Linked DNA regions of Homo sapiens: region 2 is linked to region 1. A link means that fine-mapping ties the variant in region 1 to the expression of a gene that starts in the linked region. Tissue or cell type: whole blood. Region 1 holds a variant in brackets; the other region holds the start of a gene. All regions are shown on one strand. Distances are between the middles of the regions.

Region 1 (8,105 bases):
AAATAAATGTTTATGAGTTAAGCCCCCTCCCCCCACCCAGTATGTGGCATTTTGTTCTGGCAGCCTAAACTGAGTTAGGCAGCAGGGACAGGGTGCAGTGAGGTGAGGCCAGAGGCCTCAGGATCCAGGTTGTGTAGAGCTTTGCAGGTGGTGGTAAGGGCTTTAGATTCTATCTGGGAGAGGTAGAAAAGGATGTGAGGGTTCTGAGAAAAGGAATGACATACCTGACCTGATTTTTAAAGCATCATTCTGGCCGTTGGGATGTCAAGGGTAGAAACATAGAGTGGACCACAATGATCCAGGTGAGAGACGATGGTGGCTTGGCTTGGGTGGTGGCAGTGGAGTCAGGGAGGTGTGAGCAGATTCTGGGTATGTTTTAGAAGTGGAGCTGCCAGGGATTTGCTGATGGATTGGCTGTCGAATGTGTGAGAAAGAAAGGAGTTACAGATGCCTCCATGGCTTTTTGGCCTGAGCAACTGAAAGAGTTGATGGAGGGAGAAATCAAGAGTTAAAATTCACTCAGTTCAGTGGCTCATGCCTGTAATCCCAGCACTTTGGAAGCCAAGGTGGGAGGATTACTTGAGGATAGGAGTTCAAGACCAGCCTAGGGAATATAGTGAGGTCCTGGCTCTACAAAAAATAATAAAATTAGCTGGGTGTGGTGGTATGCACCTGTAGTCCCAGCTACTCAGGAGGCTGGGGTGGGAGGATTGCTTGAGTGTGGGAGGTCAAGGCTACAGTGATTGTGCCACTGCACTCCAGCCTGTGCAACAGAGTGAGACTTCCCTGTCTCAAAAAAAAAAAGGAGTTAAAATTCAGCTTGAAATTCCTATCCCAATGGAGCTGTACAGGAGGCAGCTGGATTCAAGAGCTGAGATTCGGAAGACATGTCCAGGCTGGCACATTTGGGAATTGTCAATGACAAGATAGTATTTAAAGCCATTAGGCTGGATGAGATTACCTAGGAAAGAAATGCGGATAGAGAAGATAAGCTGTCCAATGACTGTATCCTCCAAACTTTGGAGATGGGGAAAATCAGGAGGATGCAGCAAAAGAGGCTGAGGAGTATGTAAAACAGGCTGAGGAGTGGCCAGTGAGTAAGAAGAAAACCAAGAGAGGAAGTGGAGGGCTGGAGGTCCAGTGAAGTGTGTTTCAAGAAGGAAGGTGCTCAACAGGGTCACATGAATCTGTTGATAGGGTTCGAGGAGAACTTAAATTTGACCATTGGATATAGAGCTCTTTCACTGGAGTGTTAGGCATGAAAAGCTTATGTGAGAGGATCAAGAAAAACCAAAAAGAGAGATGTTGAGCCCGTAAAACTAGATAACCAACCCTTTCAAGGTATTTTTCTGTAAAAGGGAGGGAGGGATTGGCAGCACCTGGATTGTAGACGTTAGGTCAAAGGAGGTTTTTATTTCTGTGTTTTGATTGTGTTTTGTTTCTAGATAGGCAGTGTACGACGTGTTTATATGCTGATAGAAATGATCCAGCAGAGAGGGGGCATGGAGCAGGCTCACTAATCATCAATCTCAAGAGAGACTCCCACTGAGTATAGAATTGCAGAGAATGTCATTATGCCAAGCACCAGAAACCAGGAGTCCATGTACTTATGCCCGAGACATCCTAGGCTACTGTTAAGTCCACCTCATACTGGTTATCTATTTGTCTGAGTCCAGTGAGACAGAACATACACACAAGTTATGTAAAGCAGGTTTATTTTTTATAGATAACAGTAAGGGACAGAAGTCTTGGATCCATTGTGAGCTCATCCCTCAAGGCTCAAGAAAACTGCCCAAGGTGAACGTGGTCTTGACTGCCTGTGTCCCATTTTGTATCACAGCTGAGGACCCTCAAAAGGCAGCCTGCCCTGGGTTTCATACCCTGGGAGAAACAGGACTCCCTGGGCAAAGCTTTGAAGGACATCTTCCTTCTGGGGGAGAGAGGAATAAAGCCTGAGCTTTTTCTCAGGATATTGCATTCCAGCACATTCTACTCTTATTCTTGAGACTACATGCAAAAAAGGGGGAGGGAAAATTGGGTTGGTTCAAGGTCACTCAGAGAACTGTCTTGCAGGGGAGAAACTTGGCGATGCAAGCAAGAGAGGGTTATCGCAGAAGGTAAGAGGGGAAGGCTTCCAGTGTTGGGTTTGGTTTTAAATAGAAGTGTAGACAGCTCTGCCCATAGCAACAGGATGAAAGACAAGAGTATAAAGATATAGGCACTGCTACCCGGAAAGATGTCTCCTTGGGGGCAGGTGACATTCTTCTAATTGCTCCTATTGTTCCAGTGAAATAAGGCCATCAGCTGAGAGTGAGGAGAAGGGAGGAGATACCACAAAACATGGGCTGCAGCTTGGACCCCTGCCCCATATTTTTAAACCCAGCCTATCTGGCTTGAAATTTCTAGTCAAGATGCTGCATTTGGATCTACCTTTAAGCCGTCCACCTTGTAAAGGCATTTTTTCCCTCATATAGCCCTAAACACCTCTTTACAAGCAAGGTGATTTACCCGAGTTGGCTGTCCTACTTAATCAAGCTATTAAAGCCCAAACTGCAGTGTGAAAAAGGTGCAGGCTCAATTTAGGTGCCAAGTCATTACAAAATTGGCCCTTATGAACTATAATTAGGCAAGAGAGCCCACAGCTGATCCAGATGGCATTAAGGAACAGAAGAATGAGTCAAGGGCCAAGGGGACAGGTGTACCATCCACGGAGGCTTTCCTCACACAAATGCTTCTTTTCCTTCTTTTCCTATCTTCTCCGCTGGTGGCAGCAGCCTCTCTCATTGTGGCCTCTCCACTAAAGCCTTAGGGTGCAGGGGTGGAAGGGTTAGGGCAGAACCTAACATCCAGTGTTGCCGTGAGTGGGGTGAGCCTGGGGCCCTGTTGAAACCCAGGCTAAATCATAGTGGGAGCCTCTCCTACCCCACCTCCCTCACCACTTCTAGGATTTTCATCCAAAGCAAAAGAGGCTTCACTGAATGTCAAGTCAGACTTGAGAAGAAACAGAAAAGAGAAGTGCAAAAATGATAGGAGGGAGGCAAGAGTCTCTTATGAGGCAGTGCCCACAGCTATAGTGTAGAGCTGGCTCAAGCCACAGCCAACAGAAAATAGGAGCTGAAGAGAAGCTTGCCCAGGGGGGCTGCCTTAGCCAGAGCTTCTTGCAAATCCCCCAAATGATTTTCACATCCTTGCATTTAACTCCTCCATCTCCCCCACCCCCGCTCTGAGCAGAGGTGACTGTAAACTAGTTTTTGTTCCATACTTCTAGAGTGTTACCACGGTGGTTGCAGTCCACTAAGGGCAGTTGTGAGATACCGGAAGTCAAACCCAGTTTTCCCTTATCACCTCTTTATGTCACTGATTTTCAATTTAACAGTTACAGAGAAAAATGAATTTGGCTGGTTTCACGATAAACCAAAGAAAGCACACCTGAAGGCAGGTGAGTATCAGGTGCTGTCTGTAGGTTTCCTATCAATGAATGGAGTGGAGGGATGTGGTTCATTCTTATTTTCTCCCTGACGTCTCTCCCGGCCCAGAGGACCACTCTGTTTTAAGCCATGGGATGATGTTCTTTGACTTGCCAGAGTGGCTGCTTCTCCTCTGTCTTGCAAGGGAGGGTCCCCCTCAGAGGAGTGAGACAGCTTTCAGACCCCACAGTAGAAAACAAAGAGGAAGAAGCATCTGGGGCTACAAAATGAAACAGAGTCCTCTCAATAAGCTCTAAATGACACTGGGCACCATGTCATCTCTACATGTTCTCTACACCCAGTGGTGTGCTACCACA[C/T]GTTTAACAGTTGGTTCTCTGGGGAAAAAAAAAGACCTAGTTTGTAGCATATGCCAATTTCTATGGTGTAAATACTACCACTCAGATGAATTTCAAGCTTTCTAATATGAGGTCACTGAACACAAAGTTGGGAAGATAAAAGCACCACTGGCTTTTGTGAGCTGGTGATTACCACCAATGTTTCATGGTCAACAACGTGAGGGCAGGTGTACTTCATCTCGAATGAAAGCTGCGGTAGAACTCAAAGAAGTAAAAGGTATAGAAGTAACAGGCATGCAAGGCTTGAGGAACTGGGCAGAGATTAATTTCTCTGCAAAATGAGAATATTGGGAAGATCTCTTCGGTGACCCAAAACAGAGAGACTTAGGAAGAAGTATCAGACAGGGCGTTTTGGGGGTTGGGAGTGGAAAGCAGGTAAAAATCCTATTTGACATGTATTAATTGTGTAATTTTAAAAGGAAAAAGAAAAACAATATTAAACAGTATTCTGGGCTATGCAATGTAGACTTCCCTGTAGCATCCTTTAAGAAATCTTCAGTAAAATCTTCAGACTAATTCTTCACTTATGGTTATTTGAGTGGCTTTTGCTTCAGGGGCTGTGAGGAAGTGATGAATTCTGCTGTGAGGCTGTTGTAGGATAAAGCTGAGTCTGCTTATGAGAGAGCTGCTGTATCCAAGACCATTTAGTTACAATCTCTTATTTATTCAAATCAGAAGGTAAGCTCCACAAGGGCAAGGACTTTGTTTTGCTCACTGCTATCTCATTAGTGTCTAGAAATATACGTGGAAGATTGTGATAGCTAATCTTGAGTGTCAACTTCATTGAAGAATACAAAGTACTGTTCCTGGATGTGTCTGTGAGGGTGTTGCCAAAGGAGATTAACATTTGAGTCAGTGAACTGGGAAGGGCAGACTGACCCTCAATCCTGGTGGGCATAATTTAATCAGCTGCCAGTGCGGCCATAATAAAAGCAGGCAGGAATCAGGGAAAGACTAGACTAGTTTAGTCTTCTGGCCTCCGTCTTTCTCCCGTGATGGATGTTTCCTGCCCTTGAACATCAGACTCCAGGTTCTTCAGCTTTGAACTCTTAGACTTATACCAGTGGTTTGCCAGGGCCTCTTGGGTCTTAGGCCACAGACTGAAGGCTGCACAGTCTGCTTCCCTACTTTTGAGGTTTTGGGACTCGGACTGGCTTCCTGGCTTCTCAGCTTGCAGATGGCCTATTGTGGGACTTCACCTTGTGATCATGTGAGCCAATTCTCCTAATAAACTCCCCTTCATATATACATCTATCCTATTAGTTCTGTGCCTCTAGAGAACCCTGACAAATACAAAGACGATCAGTAAACACTGTTTGAATGTTATCGAATAGCTTTTTAAACATCACCATGGTGCTTAACACAGCACAGTCCAGTGGAACTTTCTGCAGTGGTGGAAATGTTCTATGTCTGTGTTGTCCAATGTAGTGGTAGCCACTAGTCACAGGTGGCTGTGGACATCTAAACATTTGGCTACTGCAATTAACAAACTGGATTTTAAATTTTATTTCATTTTAATTAATTTAAACTTAAATGAACACCTGTGGCCAGCATCTACCACACTGGACAACACAGTAATCACTTTGCTACTCCAGTTATGGTCTATGGCCTAGCAGCATTGGCATCATCTGGGAGCTTGTTAGAAACTCAGAATTTCAGGCTCCACCACTGAGCTACAAAGCCAGAACCTGTATCCCATTCCCACACGGTCATACACACGTCAAAGTCTGAAATGCTCTGCTCTAACAAACGTCGGCACTTTCACCTACTTTATTTTGTGTGATCCTCATTAAAAAATCTACATTGAGGATATCATTCTTCCCGTTTTATTTATTTTATTTTTATTTATTTATTTTGAAACAGAGTTTTGCTCTTGTTGCCCAGGCTGGAGTGCAATGGTGTGATCTCGGCTCGCTGCAACCTCCACCTCCTGGGTTCAAGAGGTTCTCCTGCCTCAGCCTTCTGATTAGCTGGGATTACAGGCACTTGCCACCACGCCCAGCTAATTTTTTTTTTTTTTTTTTTTGTATTTTTAGTAGAGATGGGGTTTCGCCATTTTGGCCAGGCTGATCTCGTACTCCTGACCTCAAGTGATCCACCCGCCTTGGCCTCCCAAAATGCTGAGATTACAGGCGTGAGCCACTGCACCCGGCCTTTTCTTCCTATTTTATAGATAAGGTAATTGAACTTCTGATTATGTGATTTTCTTAAGACCACAAAGTGGAAAGGAGAGACGGGGTCGGCAAGCCCAGCATTTCATCTGTTCTGTTCTCTCTCTGTATGCTGGGGTAGAAGATAGCAGGCTAGATCTGAGCAATTTCAGCACCATTTATTCCAGGACTGTTTTAAAATGGAATAAGATCACAGCACTTTACTGCCAGCAACATGAGCTATCGATGTAAGTGATAGTGTAGATGGGTTGTGAAATGGAATAGTTTTGTGGGGCAGGTAGAGAATTAGCTTCCCATCTCTTCCTCAAGTATAATTGAGTGAGTAGGAATGAAGGCATGGCCTCAATGTAATGGCAGGCTTGCTTTTAGCCAGAAAAACTGGTCCTTTTGTTGTTCGGGATCTACTTATATGCATACAAGTTCTAGCTGCTTTTCATTTGTTTGTTATTGCATCATATAAAAGGGTTGGGGAGATTTTTAACAATATGGAGATTAAATTTGACTGGCTTAATGAACAATTCCCTTCGAGAAGTCCCAGGGGTGAGGATGTGGTTCCCTCTATAATGACTGAAGATGAGATACAATGACAGAGAAATGAACGGTGGCTTTCAACATGAACCCCAAATCAAAAAAAGGTCACAAGGACTCAGACTACAAATTATAAGACCTGGTTTGCTCTCCAGCACCCTTCCGTGGAGACATCTGTTTATAGCAAGCTCCAGATTCATATTGAATAAATTAATACATGTATTTAATTATGGCAAATGAATCCCTCAAGCAACGTTAAGAAGTCTGCAATGAGTATGTGCTGTTCAGTCACCAAGTTTTCACTGGGGACACTTTCTTCCCCAGAGCAACCTGTTCCTAGCCAGCCTACACTATTTCATTGGCCCTACCCTTGTAGAATTAAAACTCTCAAGTGAAAGGACTTGTTACCAAAAATAATGATATCAGTTCAAGTTAGGTGTATGTACTCCTGGTTTGCAAACCAGCAGTGAGAAAGAACAAGCAAAGGAACAAATAGGTAAACAAAGACAGAAGGAAAAGCAAAATAATAGATTCAGAGTTATCAACAAAGCCGTGAAATAACAGGCCTCACCTCCTCCTGGCCCAGCTACCCTGTGACCTCTGTTCTCCGGCAGGGAGAGCAGTTACTCTTCCACCCGGGCACCTGAGCTGGCATTCCTGCCATTGCAGTCACTCTTGGTTCATCTCTGAAGGCATGCTTGCATTCTTGACTCATTCCTCTCTCTCACCCTTCACATTGAATTGATCATCAAATCTGGTCTTGTTTTTTAAGGGTATACAAACAATAAAACTTTATTCCACCATAAAAAGGAATGAAAGTTTGATACAAGTTGCAACATTGACAAACCTTAAACACATTGCAAGTGAATTATGACAGAAATTAACAGGACAAATATGTATGATTCTACTTCTACAGAATATTTAGAATAGGAAAAATGAATTGAGACAGACAATAGATTGAAGGGAGCAGGTACTGGGGTGGTGGTGGAAATGTGGGTTATTGCTTAATAGATGCAGAGTTTGTATTTGGAATGATGAAAGAAATTGCATATTGTGGTTATGGTTTAATGACATTGTAAACATAATTAATGCCATGGAATGGTCCACGTAAAATGGTTGAAATAAAAAAAATTTATGTGAAAACTTTAATCAATATTTGAAAAACTTTAGGTCACTGAAACACACAGTTAAGATGATGAAATAAACCTACTGAGTGGAAAAATATTTGCAAACTACACGTACAGCAAAGGACTAGTATCTAAAATATATGAAGAGTTATCAAACTCTAATAGTTAAAAAAATAAACAATCCAAGTACATAGTGGGCAAAAATACATGAAGAGTCATTTCAGAGAAGAGGATATACAAGTGTTAAATAAACACATGAAAATTGCTAATGATGTTGAAAATCTGGTCAATTCTAGTTTTTCAATAACTCCATTACATCATTTCTCCTGCTAGGGTAATAATTCAGGTCTTTATCATTTTACCTGGAATTCTGCAATTGCCTCTTAACTACTCCCTTCCAACTCCATTTTTAATCTCCCCCCTCATCAATTCATAATTTCTGTGAAAACAGAAAGC
Region 2 (8,105 bases), 500 kb after region 1:
GAAAACGAGGAGGTGGTACGTTTACAAACAGAATGACCCCTACAGACACAAAGCATGTTCAACCCTCCAGCACCCAACGTAACACAGAAAGAACAGTAAAGATAACCAAAAAGGTCTCCCACTCTCCGTAGCGCTAAAACAATATGCTTGGTTTAAAACTGTTAGGTTTTAATTCCCCCCACAAACGAACAGTAAGAAAATCAAGCATCTACCTAGAAAACAAATGAACAGGCTGGGCATGGTGGCTCACGCCTATAATCTCACCACTTTGGGAGGCTGAGGCAGGAGGATCACTTGAGCCCAGGGGTTTGAGACCAGCCTGGGCAACATGGCGAAACCCCATCTCTATGAAAAATACAAAAATTAGCCGGGCATGGTGGCATGTGCCTGTAGTCCCAGCTACTTGGGAGGCTGAGTGGGAGGACTGCTTGAACCCAAGAAGCTGAGGCTGCAGTGAGCCATGACTGTACCACTGCACTCCAGCCTGAGCAACAGAGTGAGATGCTGTCTCAAAAGTTTTGAAGAAGGTAAGGAAGAAGGGAAGGGAATGGAAGAGAAGGGGGAAGGGAACGGAAGAGAAGGGGGAAGGGAACGGAAGAGAAGGGGGAAGGGAAGGGAGAAGGGAAGGGAAGGAAGAAGGGAAAGAAGAAGGAAAAAAAGAAGGGAAGGGAAAGAAGAAAGGAAGGGAAAGAGAAGGGAAAAGGAAGGGAAGGGAGGGGAGAGGAGAGGAGGGGAAGGGAGGGCAAGAGAAGGGAAGGGCAGGGAAGGGCAGGGCAGGGCAGGGCAAGGGGAGGAAGGAGGAAGAAGCGGGAGGGGGAGGAGAAGGGGGAGGAGGAGGAGGGATGGAGGAGGAGGAGGAGGAGGAGAAGAAGGAGGAGGGATGAATGAACATATTTAAAAGCAAAGACATAGGCCAGGCATGGTAGCTCATGCTTATAATCCCATCACTTTGGGAGTCTGAGGCAGGAGGATCCCTTGAGCTCAGAAGTTCAAGACCAGCCTGGCCAACATGGTAAAACGCCATCTCCACCAAAAAAATACAAAAATTCGCTAGGTGTGGTGGTGTGTGCCTGTAGTCCCAGCTACTTGGGAGGCTGAGGTGGGAGGATCACTTGAGCCCAGGAGGTTGAGGCTCACTGCACTCCAGCCTGGGCAACAGAGGGAGACCCTGTCTCAAAAAAATAAATAAATAAAATTAAAAAGGCAAAGACATGACCCTTCTATGTCTCTTAAATGTTCATTAACACCACATCTAAAACAACTGCCACTTCAGCTGTGGAAGCTCTATTAGGGAATTCTAGAAGGCATAATCCTGGGCACTAACCTACCAGCCAAGGGTGCCTGTGAATTATAGTACCTTCCCTCTTCCAAAAGGTAGAACCTGCTAGACGCAAGGCCTAAGGGGGAGCTGTGGTGAGAGGCCCAACCGGTTTTTTTTTTTTTTTTTTTTGAGACAGAGTCTCACTCTGTTGCCCAGGCTGGAGTGCAGTGGTGCAAAATCCGCTCACTGCAACCCCTGCCTCCCAGGTTCAAGAGATTCTCCTGCCTCAGCCTCCCAAGTAGCTGGGACTACAGGCGTGTGCCACCATGACTGGTTAATTTTTGTATTTTTAGTAAGACGGGGTTTCACCATGTTGGCCAGGATGGTCTCAATCTCTTGATCTCGTGATCCACCCGCCTCGGCCTCCCAAAGTGCTGGGATTACAGGCGTGAGCCACCGCGCCTGGCCAAGATGCCCAACTCTTAAGGAGAGAAAACTTCATGAGGCATTGCAGTACAGACCAGGCAGGATGCTCCAGACGTCTTGGGTTCACTCACAGGGAATATTTCTTTCTGTCAAATAAGGAGGTTACCCTGACACATTTCAGACAAAAAACAAGCTAGCATCTTTTGGCTTGGGGATACAACAGAGTCTGGTCTGATCCTGCTTTTAACTTCTTTATGAACGAATTATAGCACCACTTGTCTTTCTTAAAGTTTCCTCAGATCCCATCAGAAAATTTTCTGATGACCAGCATATGCCCACAGTAGAGTATAAAACAGAACTACCCAGCCACTGAAGTCAACTTTAGCTCTAAATGAAAGTTTTATGTCTCCTGAGCTTCCAAACAGGAAAATTATATCATGGCTGACAGTAAAGTAATTTAATTGCACTGTTGCTATGACAACATGCTGCTCTCTTTCTTTTTAATTTGCTTATTTGTCAGTAGCTTCCCAGAGGAACTAACACGCTATTCTCCATGTTTCCTTTTGTTTTAAACAAACACTGCCAGCAATATGGTTTTAGGAGAAAAAGTGGCATTGTCACGAAGAGAGGGTTATGGGAGTTCAGTACCCTTGGATCATGTGTGCGTTTTGTGCTGGGACCCCGTACTCTCCAACCACTCACTGCATCCCTATAAATCCCGCATTTTATACCAACAGGGTGAAGAGCTGCTGATCACTACAGTTCCATGTAAAAACAAAACAAAACAACAATAACCAAAAAAAAAAAAAAAAAAAAAAAAAAACAGTTCCCAGAAACCACAGCTGAGGAGTTTTCCATTATTATACTCTAACTACAGATTTCGCCAAATCTTTTTTTCCTCCTGTTTCAGAGGGAAAAAAAAAGAATCTGGATCATGTGAGTTGCAGTTAAGCAAACATTTTTAATCTGCTGCCAACAAGGCTGCTCCACCAGATACGCAAATAGTTATTCACTGGTGACCTCCTTACAACTTTTCTCTACACACACACACACACACACACACACACACACACACCCTCTTTTGTTTTTTTTATGACTTGCTGTGTTTTGTTACCCTCTTTATTTTTTAACGGAGAAAATGCGGCAAGAAAGCTTAGTTTCTCGCCTAGTAAACAGAAGGTCTCCAAATAACTGACAAAGACATTACTGGCCCAGCTCTGAACAGATGTTCGATGCGAACTTTAAAAAGTTAAGAAATCTTCCCAGAGCCGAGCAGTAGCGAGTTTGGGGGGCCGGGTCACCCCCGCCCACCCAGCACGCGCGCGCGCGCACGCACGCGCTTCACTCTCGTCTACTGTACTTGTCAAAAACATTTCAAGGGGACCTGCGGGAGTGGCGATTGGCTGCACCCCGCGTCAATCAGCGGCGTTGCCGGGCAACGGGGGAAACTGCTCTTATCCCCATATACAGGGCAATTGGGAGCTCGCATACCTTCACTGCCGGTCAGATGTCATAAACCTTTTATTGGCCGCACCGCGGCGAGCCTCGAAAACAAATCAATAAAAGCCCGCCGTCCCCCAACTTATCCAGGGCCCAAGGAGGGTTTCAAACAGGGCCGGGATGAGGGGGGTCGGGCCTCGGGGGTCTCCGGAGACGTTCGTTGCCTGTGCCAAGTCTGCACAGTTTGGCCGGGGGGTGATCTTTGTTAGGAGCCTGTTTCTCATCTTGGGGTCTCCACTTGATCGGAACCCCCTCCCCGGCCCGGAACGGCGGGGACCCCGTCCTCCGCAGACAATACCAACTCTGTTCCTTGCGGGCGTCTTTTCGGAAACCGAGGCACCGGGAAGCAGCACGCACGTCGGGGCAGGAAACTCTTCGGACCCGGCAACTTCCCGGCTCGGGGGCTCCCGGGGTCCACACCCGACCCTCCCCCCAGGACCTGCGGGGTCCCTCGTCTTCCCAGAGCGGCGAGGTAGTCTCCAGGACCGTCTCGGACGCGCCTCCCGCCCCGGGTGCCCCCCGAGCCCACGCGGGAGCCGGCAGGAGCGGGGTGCAAACTCACCTGGCCGGAGCGGGGCACGGGGGTGCGGGGGCGCCGCTGCCCTTCAGCAGGAGCCGACAAACTTTCGCGGGCGCCCGGCGGGCATCGCTCGGTGGCCCCGCTAAGGACGCGCGGGCGCGGCGCGGCGAGCCCGGGGCGGCGGGCGGCGGGGGGCGGCCGCGGGCGCGGGCGGCAGGGGCGCGGGGGTCGCGGCGCGGCATGGGACCTGCGGCGTCCGCCGGGCGCGCCGCGCGTCCTCCCGCCGGCCCCGCCGCTCTCCCCGCCCCGTCCCGCCTCCCGCTCGCCTCCGCCGCGGCGCGTCGGGCCGGGGCGCGCCGAGCGGCGAGAAATTGTTTCCACTGCAAACAAAAAAAGGCGACACATGACCAGGCAGGAGGAGGGGAAGCGCGGGGAGGGAGGAGGGCGGAGGGAGGGACAGAGCGGAGGGCGGAGGGAGCCGGAGAAAGGGAAAACGTGGGCCTGGCCGCCAGCGGCCTGGGGCGCGGGGCACTGACCCGCCGGGGCGGACCCTGCCCGCGCCCCTCGCGCGCCCCAGCACTCAGCCAGGGCGGAGGCCGGGGCTGGGCCGCGCGGCCTCGCCTCTTGGGCCCCGCGGGGCGGGGGTGACCGGCGCGGGTCCCGCGACCCAGGGCGGCCGCGACCGTGGGCGGTGGGGCAGGTGGGTCAGGCGGCGCGTGCCCTGTCCCCTCCCCGGGCTCCGGCCACACGAGCGGGCCGGCGCTGCGCTGCTGGCAACGTGTCGCGGGAACGCTCCTACCCCATCTGCATGCCTTACATGGCTCGAAAGTAAAAATAAAAAGAATTACGATGCGGGCGAGGCTTGTGGGGGTGAGAAGAGGAGATTCCACGTCTCCCCAGTGCTGCGTCCTGATAGGACCCCCAGGGCCTTCCGAGCCCTCTCCCAGCGACCACCTCGTGTCCCGGAGGTAAGCACCGCAGCGTCCCACCCAGGTGGCCGCGTGTCTCCCGAGGGAGGGCCGGTGGCCATTACAAGACAAGAGGCACCGTCCTAAAGGCCACGCCGGTGGGGCCTCTCAAGTGGGTTGTGCGGAACGCCCCGGCCGGCCTAGAGAGAAAACAGGTCTCATTTCCATCTCAGTTTGAGCTCTCAGGAACCAGACTGACAATTCGCAAGCCACCCAGCGAAATGGTGCAGCCACCACTCTAAGTCTCTAGGCACCTCCAAATAATAGCACCCACTGCTAAAGCCACACCAACCAGCCGCCTTGGGAGAGGATGAGAGGAGAGAGTCCAACAGGACACCCTGGTGGTGACAAAAATAAAAATGTGATTGCACATTACTCCCAGGTAGCCAAATTGGTTGGTTCCTCTACAGAGGAGAAGCCCAGGGCACCCTTCCTGCCACCCCCTCCTGAGCCAGTGGACAGGACATCGTGAGCGGTCTGAAAACTACAGAAAAAAACAGCGAGTAGACCTGGAGAAAGCTTTCTAGCATGCAGTACTTTTAAACCTAGCCAAAAGGAGGGACTAAGGGAAACACCAGTTAGGCTTCTGAAAATTTTTTCTGTCTCAAAAAATAGACCCCCCCCCCCCAATCTGAGAGTCATTCCCCCTAACAAAGGTTCAAGAGGGCAGGTGACAAGTCTTCAGCAAAGATGTGCCTTTCAGACTCACCGGAGACCTTACTACTTCCAAGTTGTGTGGCATCTCCCCATCTGGAGACAATTAGGAGGTGGAAGCCCAGGGGTAGCCTGAGGTCATCCAGCCCCACCCCTTTGATTACTGAGCACTTGATGCGACCTACCCAAAGTCACTAAGCAAAAGGCACAAGGTGGCAGAGACAAGTCAGATGATCTTTGAAGTCTCACGCCAGAGATTCTCAGGGTTAGAAGTGGTAACAAAGCCAGGATGAGACAATGTGTACCCTGCTTTCCTGTAGCTCCGGCTAATGCAGGTCCTGCCCCTCCATCAGCGCGTCAGTTGAGGGTGCTTATTCTCCGCCAGAGGAACCAAGGCCAGAGACCTTTGTCCAAGCCCTTGCTGGCCTAGAGAGGACGAAGTCGCCCCCTTACATCTTCCTCTTCCATCCCCAGCCCCCAACCCCACCCCCAAGTCCCCCAGCTACACTCACACAATAGCCAGAAATCTCTTTATATTAAGTAGAGGTGGCACCTTATTTTCACCGGCCCCAGTCCCCTCCTGCTTTCTCAGAGTTCAAAAAGAGGGGATGTGAGCCAAAGGTGATTGTACATGGAATATGTCATTCCATGTGTGTTTTTGCTTCTTGCATTCTCAAACATATTTCTTAATTTCTCTCTCCCATTACAGTTGCAGCAAGAGATGTGAGAAGGTGTCACCCTGAAGAGGAAGTGGTGGACCAGCCCTGCCTGATGTGGACAGCAGGGGACACATGTCTGCCTGTCGGTCTATCTGAAATGGGGGAAAAAATGCTGAAAGCCAAAGGAGGGCTTAATGTGGCCTTTTCCACCTTCTAATTCCATAGAACCTCAGCTCTGGGACTTGCTTCCTGACCTAGGGTGCAGGGGCCAAATTTGTTTGGGAACAACCCCATTCACAATTCCCCATGAACTTTCAGAAAGGACCCTTGCGTCTTAGGTCCTGAGAAGTCACAAATAAGCAAGCTGCATTGTCTAATGTCTTGTCTACACTGTTTTACAAACACATTTAACAGCCGAATTGTATATGTGCCCTAGAAATCACTTTGAGAAACACTTATTTCCTGATAGAGGACTTGATGGGACCATTCTGCAGCCCCATCTGAGCATGGGCTGGAGAGTACATAAGTATCTGGGAGCTGGAAGTCCTCAATTCCAGGCTTATCTGCCCCCATCAGCGTGGGACCTCAGTTCCTCCTCCAAGGAGAAGAGCGCCCCTCCCTTGATGTTTTGTGCATTCTTTTGCTAAATGTTTCTCTGGTCAAGAACTTTAATCCCCCTACACACACACTGTATTGGTTATTAGAGCAGCATGGCTATTTATGGAATAGTTAAGTATAAAACCCGATATACCTTGCCCCCCTTGAGGCAGTACAACTGAGTAGGTGAGCAGGTGCAGTCGGGAAGACCTGAGAGACTGCCCAAAATAGGAAGAGTCCGAGGCAGGCCTGGAAAGACAGTCTTCTGGGGAGGGATCCTGCAAAGAGACTCCAGTACAAAGGATATATGAGAGGAAATACGGGGAGGCTGGGCAGGCACACACCGCTGGCCTGCACAGAACCATATTCCTTTCGTGCTTCCCTCTATAGGTGACTCCACTCTCTACCCTGCAGGTTGGCTTCCTCTGCTCAATGATAACCACACAGGGCTGCCAGCAGCAAGCCCTGAGGCCTTCTGACTTTTAGCACCCACCACCTTTGAACTGCCTCAAGCCTTCCATGACATAGTTTAACTTCTCAGGGAAATAGTGCGATTGGCCTAGCCTGAGTCACATGACTCCCCTACGCGCATGGCCCCCCACCACTCCCTACTGCTAACAGCTGAGACAAGGGACATGGTGAAACATCTGGGGAAGGGAGGGGAGATGACTTTGGAAGTGGGATATCTAATAAGGGTGGGTTGCTGTTTAACCTGTGGAAATGGGGAAGGGGTGTTCTTGACCTGAGCTTCTCACCTGGGGATGCCCATCAGAACCATCCAGAAGCCACACCTAACCAACTAGAGTCTTCTAGGATGGTGCCTGGATATGTGTATTTTGAGAAAGCACAAGGGGATGATTTTGCTTACAAACTGCTGTTCCAAGAGAAATCGATGGCACAGAATTACCAAATCTGACTTGATTGTAGTAGAAGAGGAACTCATTCACTGAACAAATATTTGCTGAGTGCCTACCAAGTGCATGGCATTGTGTTAGCTGCCAGAGATAGACGGTCTTTGTCCCTAAAGAGCACACAGATTAGTGGGTAAGAGTGCAAGCATCATATCACCAAACTCCTTGAATAGCAGGGTGAGCAATTTATATGTGTTAAGGTCAGAGGGCAAAGGTGGCTCACTGAATATTTTTGAGCCCAGAAGTTGTATTATCAGAGATACGAATTAAAAAAAAAAAAAAAGATAAATGGGGATGGTGGATCCAAGATGAATTTCGGGAGAGGAAGAGAGAAACTGGAAGATCAAAAACCAGCAGAACAACTCAGAAATCATTGCAGTAATTCATACAAAACAGAATGAAGACTGTTTAAGAAAAAAAAAAATTGGGGAAAAAAGGCTAAAATAGTGGTTCCTTCTGAATGTTAGAGTTATGGGATACTTCTTTTTTGTGTGCTTCTTTCATACTTGTCCATATTTTCTTTCTTTCTTTTTTTTTTTTTTTTTTTTGAGACAAGAGTTTTGCTCTTGTTGCCCAGGCTGGAGTGCAATGGCACAATCTCGGCTCACT

The links. PIP is the estimated chance that this variant, and not a neighbour inherited with it, causes the effect.
Region 2: it holds the start of FOXN3, and the variant in region 1 is fine-mapped to the expression of FOXN3 in whole blood (GTEx, PIP 0.92).

What each region holds. Positions count from the first base shown.
Region 1 is chr14:88,912,529-88,920,633 of GRCh38, forward strand. No RefSeq gene overlaps it. Among named protein-coding and RNA genes, the nearest start is that of TRA-AGC15-1, 63 kb to the right of the region's middle. The variant C/T (reference allele first, on the strand shown) is at 3,785.
Region 2 is chr14:89,413,122-89,421,226 of GRCh38, forward strand. FOXN3 (forkhead box N3) reads right to left here and starts at 4,112. Exons shown (of 6, transcript NM_005197.4): 1 at 3,750-4,112. It overlaps FOXN3-AS1 (FOXN3 antisense RNA 1), which reads left to right and starts at 4,233. Exons shown (of 2, transcript NR_036500.1): 1 at 4,233-4,675; 2 at 6,039-6,672. RefSeq lists enhancers at 2,964-3,258, 3,273-3,806, 3,807-4,339, 3,964-4,258 and silencers at 3,954-4,163, 4,204-4,493.